Homo sapiens: one gene and its partner. The protein of the gene in region 2 interacts with the protein of the main gene of each other region in a pairwise test. Each region holds a gene or a part of one and is shown on either strand. Other genes may lie near its edges.

Evidence for each region.
Region 1: the proteins of SH3GLB2 (region 2) and CNOT7 interact in a two-hybrid assay, tested with the Homo sapiens proteins (one large-scale study listed by BioGRID).

Annotation. Positions count from the first base shown.
Region 1 is NC_000008.11:17,229,197-17,234,479, forward strand, and holds part of CNOT7 (CCR4-NOT transcription complex subunit 7), read right to left. Parts: intron 3,342-5,283; coding exon 3,231-3,341; coding exon of another isoform or gene 3,225-3,230; exon of another isoform or gene 2,316-3,224; intron 1,653-2,315; coding exon 1,524-1,652; 3' UTR 981-1,523; coding exon of another isoform or gene 939-980; 3' UTR 1-938. UniProt on the Homo sapiens protein: Has 3'-5' poly(A) exoribonuclease activity for synthetic poly(A) RNA substrate. Its function seems to be partially redundant with that of CNOT8.
Region 2 is NC_000009.12:129,007,207-129,011,387, reverse strand, and holds part of SH3GLB2 (endophilin-B2), read left to right. Parts: intron 1-622; coding exon of another isoform or gene 623-694; coding exon 695-718; intron 719-1,178; coding exon 1,179-1,268; intron 1,269-1,516; coding exon 1,517-1,617; intron 1,618-1,920; coding exon of another isoform or gene 1,921-1,935; intron 1,936-2,041; coding exon 2,042-2,282; intron 2,283-2,596; coding exon 2,597-2,704; coding exon of another isoform or gene 2,705-2,846; 3' UTR 2,847-4,181.

The sequences.
Region 1 (5,283 bases), on a different chromosome or scaffold from region 2:
ATTTCCAAAAGAAAATCACCAGTCATCAACATTTATAAGAAAACATTTTGAAGCCTTTATTTACAAAAGCTTTAAAAACAAATAATACCCTCTGTTTTGCAAATAATGTTTTGTTTAAAAAGGACCACCCAGTTACAGCACTGTAATATCATGAATAAAGAATGTACAAGGGAGACAAACCAATGTGACTAACATTTGGAGATTTGCTAATATTACTGATTGAAGTGTAGGTAACACACATTATAACTTGTAGTCCATCATTTCGGGGTAGAGTTAATGATTACCGTAAAGTCTTCCTACACATGCTCTGGTCTGGTCACATATTCTGCATGGCTAAGTATTTCACAGTCTCTTTTGTCAATATATATAAAATAGATTGCAAAGATATACACAAAAAAATAAGCATTACACTCCTCAGGTAATTTTATCAGCTATATATATATATATGAGAATATATATATATTTTGTTGTTTTGTACCAAATCTCTCCATTATTTACCTTTGTAGCAACTATGAAAGCACAATTTTTGTCTTCTAATTTAATTTGGTACAAAATATACCTAAAGACTTATCTTTGGATTTTTAATAAAATTGATTTGTGTAACCAACAAATCAAGAGCATCATAAGAATGGCTACAAAATTTAAAAAAAAAAAAAGGGTAAATGGTGATGGAATAAAAATAAGCAGATCAAGGGAAGTGTGCTATCATAAAATAACTGTAGCTTCAACATCTTGAGTACCAGTTTCCTGGCAGATAGTAAACATCCAATCACAAGGGATTTTTCCTGAAGGGTGTAAAGCTGGTTTGAAAATTCTTCAGTCACAGAGCAGCCTACACATGCCAATTAGAAACTGACAGACACTAGATGTGCTTGGAAGATTAAACACTACGTACAGAAACAGCAGTTACTAAGCTCCTCAGTAGTTTCTTGTCTTTTTTAAGTTTCGCTGAATCGACAGTTTGCACAACGTGCTATATTCTGTGGGTCAAAACCAAGTAAATACTGTGTAAAGTTGGCAGATTTTTCCAGCTAAGATCAAGAAAAAACAAATTTTCTGATAAAACAGGTTTAGAGTCAGAAACACTCTCTAAAGTGCAAAACTGATGGTCCACGATCTCAAATAGCTAAAACTCCTGCAGAATGGAAGGGAGAGACGTGAAACAGGGAAATAAATTACAGTCAGTGCTAGTTAATTTAGGAAAAGGGAAAAATAAACCAAACTCAAGTCGGTAAAGTTTATCAAAATATTCAATGATGTAGCTTTCCCCACTCTCTGTCACACACGCTTGCTAACAAGTATATTAAATTAAGGCCAAATTTAACCTGAATGCGTTTTTTTTTTTCTTTTTATTAAGATCTGAGATAGGAACGGTCATACTTAGTACTGAAAGGCAGACAATAAAATGGGCCATGAAAGGGGGGGGAAAGGTACTGTCTATTGTTCGAGGGATTCAACCAGAGATAAAACCTATATACAAGCATGTGTGTAGCTCGAAATAAAAATAAAAGGACTATTTCATGTCATGACTGCTTGTTGGCTTCCTCTTCATATGCATTCCCTGTGCCATTCTGTACATAGGATGAACCAGAACCAAGGCCATACAAATGACCACAATATTTGGCATCATCAATATGATCTTCAAAGAACATCTAAAAAGGAATTTTGAAGAAAAAAAAAAGATAATTTTAACCAAAAGGAACCACTTGTAATTTATATTTCAGCAATGTAAGTACTGACTGTTCACTGACAATAATGATGGCTCTTTTCTATGGTGTTCCTTTGAGGCTACGCATTTCAGTTCAATGAGTAAGACTAATGTCCTCAAAAGTACAGAGCTCAGAAACCAAAGAAAGAGACTACAAAAAAAGTGTATAAATGCATGTCTTTTCCATTTAGACCATTTTTATAAGAATTTTTCATCATGGAAAAATAACTATTCCATTAATTTAACAATACTCAAGAATGAAGAAAGCCAATGATGGTGGGGGAAAAAAAGTTTAGGTTCATAAACTGTCTTAAATCTGTATGCAAGGCTGAGCTGGCTATAAATGATCAAACCATAAAGTCATGGACAGTAAAATCCAAACATTCACACTCTATTACTGTCCTTGAAGAAGCCAAGAAAAATAAAGATAAATTAGTGCCAGAAATCCACCTTTAGTTAAATAAACCATTAAGACATTTTTAAAATGCAAAGCTAAAAAATCCAAAAGGTTGTTTCAATTATCTAATGAAACAATTGGAAGGAGTCCAAAACAAAATATTTACGTGTCATGAATGGATAGTCCAAATCACTTCTGAATCAACAACACTACTTAGCAAAACAGCTTTAATGCTTTCTATTATCAATACATTGCTACAAAAAGTTTTAAATTCTCAGTCTCAATTTAATGTCTAAGAGAAAATATACTCAAATCCACAGCGAATTTTTCCAAAAGGGAAAACTTATAGTCAAGAAAAACCTCACTTGTTTTTTGCACAACCAATTTTCCTGTTTACCTATAGCTAGGTGTATCTGTGCACATCACTTAATTACTTAGGAGTAGATAATGGGTTCATTTAGTTTCATTCTTCCATCCCTAACACTTTATACTCAAGGAACTGATCTCTGCCTTTTGCCGTTTAAGGAGGGTTTTCCTAATATGGTTTCTGATGCAACTACTACGTTGGATTTATTTGATCCCTTCGGAATTCAACCCCCCTTTTAAGACTCAATGCAGTAAAAGAGCCTGAGTTCTTCTCTATAAAATCTTCAAAGCACTGAAGAATGACATGAGCAAATAATATATTTATCACCAGTTTAAACCTTAAAAGGGGTCATGCTAGAATAAACCTAATATAAAGATTCCTTGCCTTGTAGGAGGAGCACCAATGGGAGTCAGAAAAGAACTCTGGAGTTCTCCCACTAGTAATGTGTTTAATCATGGAAGTTATTAGCCTGTTTTCTCACCTGAGAAATAATATGGTTGGACCTACATGACTTCTCAGGTAGTTTATGTTTTAAAATTGTTGGTTCTATGATGAACATGTTCTCCCAGTTCCTTCTGAACTACATTTCAAGATGACTTATTTTTGAATACTTTTAAGTGTGGTGGATGTGACTCATATGGTATCTCTAATTATATCTTTACTTAGTAGGTACTTGTTGCCCAAAATCTTTGGCCACAAGATTTTTAATGTTCTCAACCTAACAACCAACTGAGAAAAAGGCAGTGATGTCTTCATACTTCTCTCATTTTGAAAAAGGCCATTCCTGTGAGCAATGAATCAGATCCTGCCTGATGTTGTGGTCCTATCCGTTCCAGCTCTAACTGTTCTGCCACCTCCTGTAATCCACCCTAGAAAAAATAAAAAATTGCTTGTCAAGAAGAAAAATCTTACAAGGCCTAAATTCACAAATTATAAACTTAGACGCTGACCAAAATAAAAATAAACTTTAGTATGTAAAGGTGAATCTTATAAAGATTGGGGGGAAGAAACAGAGAATGTGAATTACTAATGTATTTGTTGAATGCGGAAAAAGTATCATTTAATAGAAAACAAGATCCTAATTGGGAAAATGTATTTTCATCATGTTTTAGGGCATATGACAGGTAAATACTCTCCTAGATATGGGAAGGAAGCAGACCACATATAGGGTAATATTTATCAAGTACACTCATAGTCTATCAATCCAGTAATAATTATAAAACTGAAAAGCTAGTATAACACCATTTTTTTCATATTTTCTTAAACTTCCCACCATCCATTTGTAGTTTTCACTTAATTTTTACAAAACAAAGCCATTATGAATAATCATTAAGAGTATGCTAAATGCTTCACTATGGTTTTCTTAGTTAAGACGAGTATATGCACACAACTCCTTAGAGTGGTCTGCTATAATCCACCTATGTTAATACTCCTAAGATTAAAAAAGAAAGATGAGAGTGGAAAGAGTGGAAAGAAAGAAAGAGAAAGACAGTAACAGAAGGAAAGAAAGTGGGAGGACAGGCAAGGAGAGTAAAGGGAGGGGAGAATAAGTAGAGCGTGAAGGAAAGAAACACCAACAACAAAACAAAAATTCTTCTCTAACTTGTTAAGGCCTCCACCGGCAAAATGGCCCTTCTGTGCATCACAGCTTGAAACAAGGCTTTGCACAGCAGTTGCTTCTGCGCTAAAAATAGCACGAGGATTAGGTATCGTTAGCAGCTGCTTAGGAGAACAGAACTAGAACTGAATAGAACAGCATGGCTGACTATAGGTCAAAAAGCACCTTTGTCGTTAACCTGAATTTTAACACAGCAGCTTACTCAGGACACATTCAGAATATCTGTACTTAGAAACTTCCCAGTAACAACCACATGATGAGCAATAATTTGGTTCCCTGTTCCTGAAAACTATCATTATACAGACATGTCAATTAAAAAAAAAGTCAGATGAAAACATGTAGGCCTCAGCATGCAGTGCTTTCACAGGGTGGGCTGAATTTCTCAAGCAAGGGATACCCTACTGCAAGTTCACTTCCTGGAAGTCCCCTCAAATTACACAGAAGTCTACTGCTACAAACATAAAATAATCTTTCTTGAAAATTTCTCTAGTCATATGCTGACCATATCATGTATTAAAGGTAAACACTGGCCAAAAGAAAGCTTCTCATCTTCAGTTATCTGTTAAGACCAGCGTGACCAACACGGTAAAACCCCGACTCTACTAAAAATACGAAATTTAGCTGGGTGTGGTGATGGACACCTGTTAATTCCAGCTACACAGGAGGCTGAGGCAGGAGAATCACTTGAACCCGGGAGGCGGAGGTTGCAGTGAGCCGAGACCACGCCACTGCACTCCAGCCTGGGCGACAAGAGCAAGGCTCCGTCTCAAAAACAAAAAAAGAATTAATGTTTAGAATTTAAAAATACATGTTATGCAGCGTCAAAATGTTACTACTATCTAGGCAGGACCTACACATTTCCCATAGTACTTAACTGTAACAAGCTGACATCTTTTGGCCACAGAAAAATCTTTTAGCTATATAGTTTAATCCTAGGAGCATTATCCTATCACTAGAACTGACAAAATAATTTCTAGCCAAGATAAGCCAAAAGGAAAGAAAAACTTTTGCCACACTACTAAATACATCTGCATATCGCTGGCCACCTTAGATTCCACCTTGTAAGAACAGATTCTATGCGTCTTGGGAGAAAGTAACAACTCACAATGGCGTGCATATGAGAGCCTCAATGTCCTCAGATTTGTGTTTTGGTTTGTGATTTTCAATCTGGCAAGCAGTGACAAGAACCGGAC
Region 2 (4,181 bases):
GTGCTCCTGGACGGGGACTTCCTAAGCAGCATGGGGGCCACACGGGCCGGCCACGCACACTGGCCTGGGTCCGCATTCCCTATTTCAGGCTGTTGTCTCGGGTCAGATCTCCGGAAGCGGCAGGAGCGCTGGGTCTCCTGGTCGTGGCCGGGCAGCGTCTTTCTTCTTCAGGGTCTGGATGCCACTTCCCGCCTCCTCCCTGTGCCCAGTGGAAGGAGAAACATCCTAGAGGGTGGAGACTGCCCTGTTTTTCTTTTGCCATTGAGTCCCAGTGTGACTCAAGCACGAGGCCACCTTTCTCTGCCAGAGGACAGAAAGCTTCAGTGACTGGCCCAGGGTCACACAGTTCTGCCGCCCAGCCCAGCAGCCTGAGCCAGCAGTCAGGATGGGGTGGGGACACTCCGTCTCTCTTGAGACCCCACTCAGAGAATGGGGCTGACACTGTAGGAGAAATATAAGCAGGACTCCTGCTGGCTGCTCCCCTCCTGCATGAGGCATGTTAGAGGGACTGGGACCGCCAGCCCCCAGCTCCCATGCCGGGCCTCGGCCCAGTCTCAGCTCCTGTTTGGGAGGGGGGGCAGAGGGGCAGGGGGGCAGAAGTTGAGTCTGGGAGCTGGGGCAGGGCACAGGCTCTAGGGTCCAGCTGTCCTCCTCTCCCCTCCCCTGCTGGCCACTCCTGCTGCCGTCTCCACAGCTCTGGAATGATGAAGTGGACAAGGTAAGTTGGGGCCTGGGGGGCTGGGCTCGAGGAAGAAGGGGTGGCGGGGTGCAGGCACACTTGCTGCTGTGGGGTCTGATCTGTTTCTCACTCTGCCCCACACCCACTGGGGAGGGGTTACTGCTTTCCCTCCCTGGGCCTCAGTTTCCCCTCTGTGGGGAAATGTTTTCTCCACAGTACCCTGTAGCACACAGTAGGCCCTCAGGATGCACTTGCTGGGTGGATTTCTCCGATGGGTGATGGAGGAAGGGTCTGTCACTGCAGCTGCCTGTGGGGTCCTGAGTGGGGCTCTAGCTTCTCTGGGGTTGGGGCTCCAGGTGTGAAGTCAGGCATAGACCCAGAAGGCTCTCTGTGTTCCCAGGGGAAAGGGACAGGCGGCTCCCAGGTAGGCTCCAGGAGAAGACTGCGGGGAAGCTGGTGGGTGGTGTGTGGGTGCTCATGGCTGCCCTGCCCTGCCCAGGCCGAGCAGGAGCTCCGCGTGGCCCAGACAGAGTTTGACCGGCAAGCAGAAGTGACCCGTCTCTTGCTGGAGGGAATCAGTAGCACTCACGTGAGTCCCACTGCCCACCCTCACTAAACCTAACCCTCAGCAGGCACCAGGTGTGCCTGAACCACAAGGTCAGCAGGGCTGCCCCAGAATGGCCCTCACAGAGCAAGTCCCACCGGGGAGGGTGTGGGCGCAGGGGCAGGGCACCCTGGAATGCCGGAGCAAGGTCTGGTAGAGGACGGGGATGGGGACGGAATTTTTTGTTCTGAGGGCGGGAGGTTAGAAGTCAGCCTCTGGCCTCTTCCCCGCAGGTGAACCACCTGCGCTGCCTCCACGAGTTCGTCAAGTCTCAGACAACCTACTACGCACAGTGCTACCGCCACATGCTGGACTTGCAGAAGCAGCTGGGCAGGTGCGGGGCCAGCACTGCTGAACCCACTGGGGCCCCCTGGCTCCCATACCCTGTCCGTGGGCAGCATGAGCTCCTCTGGGCAAGTCCTGTGACACAAAGCTGGGTTGGAGGGCTCTGCTGGAACCCACTCTGGGTGCGGGCATCTCATGTGTATGAGGGTGGAGTGGCTGGCCTTACTGACGGCCAAGTCCCCTGGAGCCCCTGAGGGTTTCTAGGGAATGCCTGGGTGGGGAGGATGGCAGGGACCAGGGGGTGGGGCCATCTCACCCTTCCCTTGCTTTGCTTTTCCCTTTGTGCTGCCAGCTCCCAGGGTGCCATGTGAGTAGCCGGGGCTGGAGTGGGGCTCCTGGGGCTGGGGAGGGGAGTTTGCCTCTGGGGTCCCTTCTGGGACTCCCACCTGCTAAGATGTATCCCTCCTCTCCAGATTTCCCGGCACCTTCGTGGGCACCACAGAGCCCGCCTCCCCACCCCTGAGCAGCACCTCACCCACCACTGCTGCGGCCACTATGCCTGTGGTGCCCTCTGTGGCCAGCCTGGCCCCTCCGGGGGAGGCCTCGCTCTGCCTGGAAGAGGTGGCCCCCCCTGCCAGTGGGACCCGCAAAGCTCGGGTGCTCTATGACTACGAGGCAGCCGACAGCAGTGAGCTGGCCCTGCTGGCTGATGAGGTGGGCCCGGTGCCGCAAGGTGGGGCAGGAATGGGCTGGGTGAGGAGCAGCCTGGGCACTGGGATCAGGCACATGGGGCCTGGAGGGGCCCTGTTGGCAAAGTGGGGACCAGCAGGTTAAAGAGGGCATATCCAGCTCTGAGGAAAGGATCCTTGCTCTGCTGGGTCTCTGGAGCAAGTGAGATGAGCGCCAGCCACTGAAGGTGTAGCACATGCCACGGGCCATGGGGAGGTGGCAGCTCTGTCCCCACTTAGTCCTGGGGCCAGTTCCACCCTTGGCCAGGCCATGACCGTCCTCTACTGCCATCTCTGCAGCTCATCACTGTCTACAGCCTGCCTGGCATGGACCCTGACTGGCTCATTGGCGAGAGAGGCAACAAGAAGGGCAAGGTCCCTGTCACCTACTTGGAACTGCTCAGCTAGGCAGGTGCCCCCATCCCCCCCGCATTCTGGCCTAGGCAGGAGAGGATGGGCGCAGCCCTGCCACTTAACTTGTTTGTTGGTGACACAGTTGTTCAGAGTGGGGAGAATTCACCCCATTCTGTCCCTGCCCCTAGTCACCTAGCTGTGAGGGTGCCTGAGGCTGAATGGCTCCACCCCTCCCCCAGCCCTGCTTCTGACCTGTGGCTCTGGAGCCCCTGCCCCTGCCTGCATCCCCGAGCACCCCACCCTCCAGGCTCCACTAAGGAGGGAGGGGCTGTCTGCAGCAGCTGCACTCAGCACCTAGGCCAGGGTGGGGCCGCCGCAGATGGGCTCAGGAAGCCCCAGGTGCACTCAGCGAGAGCCCTGCCTTTCAGTTGCCAAAAGCTGCATCAGGGGAATGCGGCAAGGCACACAGGGCTCTGGCAGCCCCTGGGGACTGGGCGCTGCCCCTGGGAGGGGAGAGCCTGGCCAGGGCTGGTGTTGGGCCCGGAGCAGCATCTTCCGGTGCTATCCTCCCCTCCCACCCCTCACAGCTCAAGCCAAGTCCAGCGGCCGCAGTCTTCACCTCTCCACACTCACTTTTTATCTGGTGTTTTTACTTCTGCCTGCGTTTGCTCTCTAGCCAATAAACCGTCCTTGTGTGCGAGTCACCTGGGCTCCTGTCAGGGCCTGGCCCTGAGGGTGGTAAAGGGAAAGGTAGACTCACCCTCTGCCCCACTCTTCCACAGAGTGAGCAGGGGCCCTGTGGCTGCCCCGGCCCCCAGCTCTCTAGTTGGGAAGAAGTGCAGCCCTCCCTGTCTTCTGCGGGGCCTGTGCCTCTCAGAGGGCAGTGCTGTTCCTGGACATGAAGCCGCACAAGGAACGTTTTATTCCTAAGAAAAAGTTTCCTAAATTTGGATTGTGGAGCGGACTGTAGAATGCGTCTGACAGTTCAGTTCAAGCACAAGAAGTGGGTAGCGGTCAGTGCTGTCTGCAGGTCGGGCGTTTCACCCAGCATGTGCCCCCGTGCCATGGGTTCTCATGCCGTCCTCAGTGTCCACATTTCACAGATGAGATCAGCAAGACAGTCAGCTCCTCAAGGGACCACAGTTGGCAAGTGGCCAAGCAGGGACTGAAGCCCAGGCAGCCTGATTCTAGAAACCCTAAGTGATGTCTGTGTTTTAGATGGCCCCTAGCAGGACCTAGCATTCTGACTTCAGTCCTGAGAAGGCCAACAGCCAGTAGGCCCCACTGTTGGGGCTTCTGAAGAGGGGATCGGGGGATGACGGGGGCACGGGGCTATAAATAGGAAGGCACAGAGCTTCAAGAAAGGCTCACCCAGGGATGAGCTCAGCCCACTGGGCCAATGAAAGCAGGGTCAAGGACAGGACCAGCGCAGGCCAAGGAAGGGAATATCTGACAGCGCCCACCCAGCCAAACCCTCAGCCCAAGGACAGGAATGAGGAGATGCTGGTGAACTAGCCATCCATCAGTACCT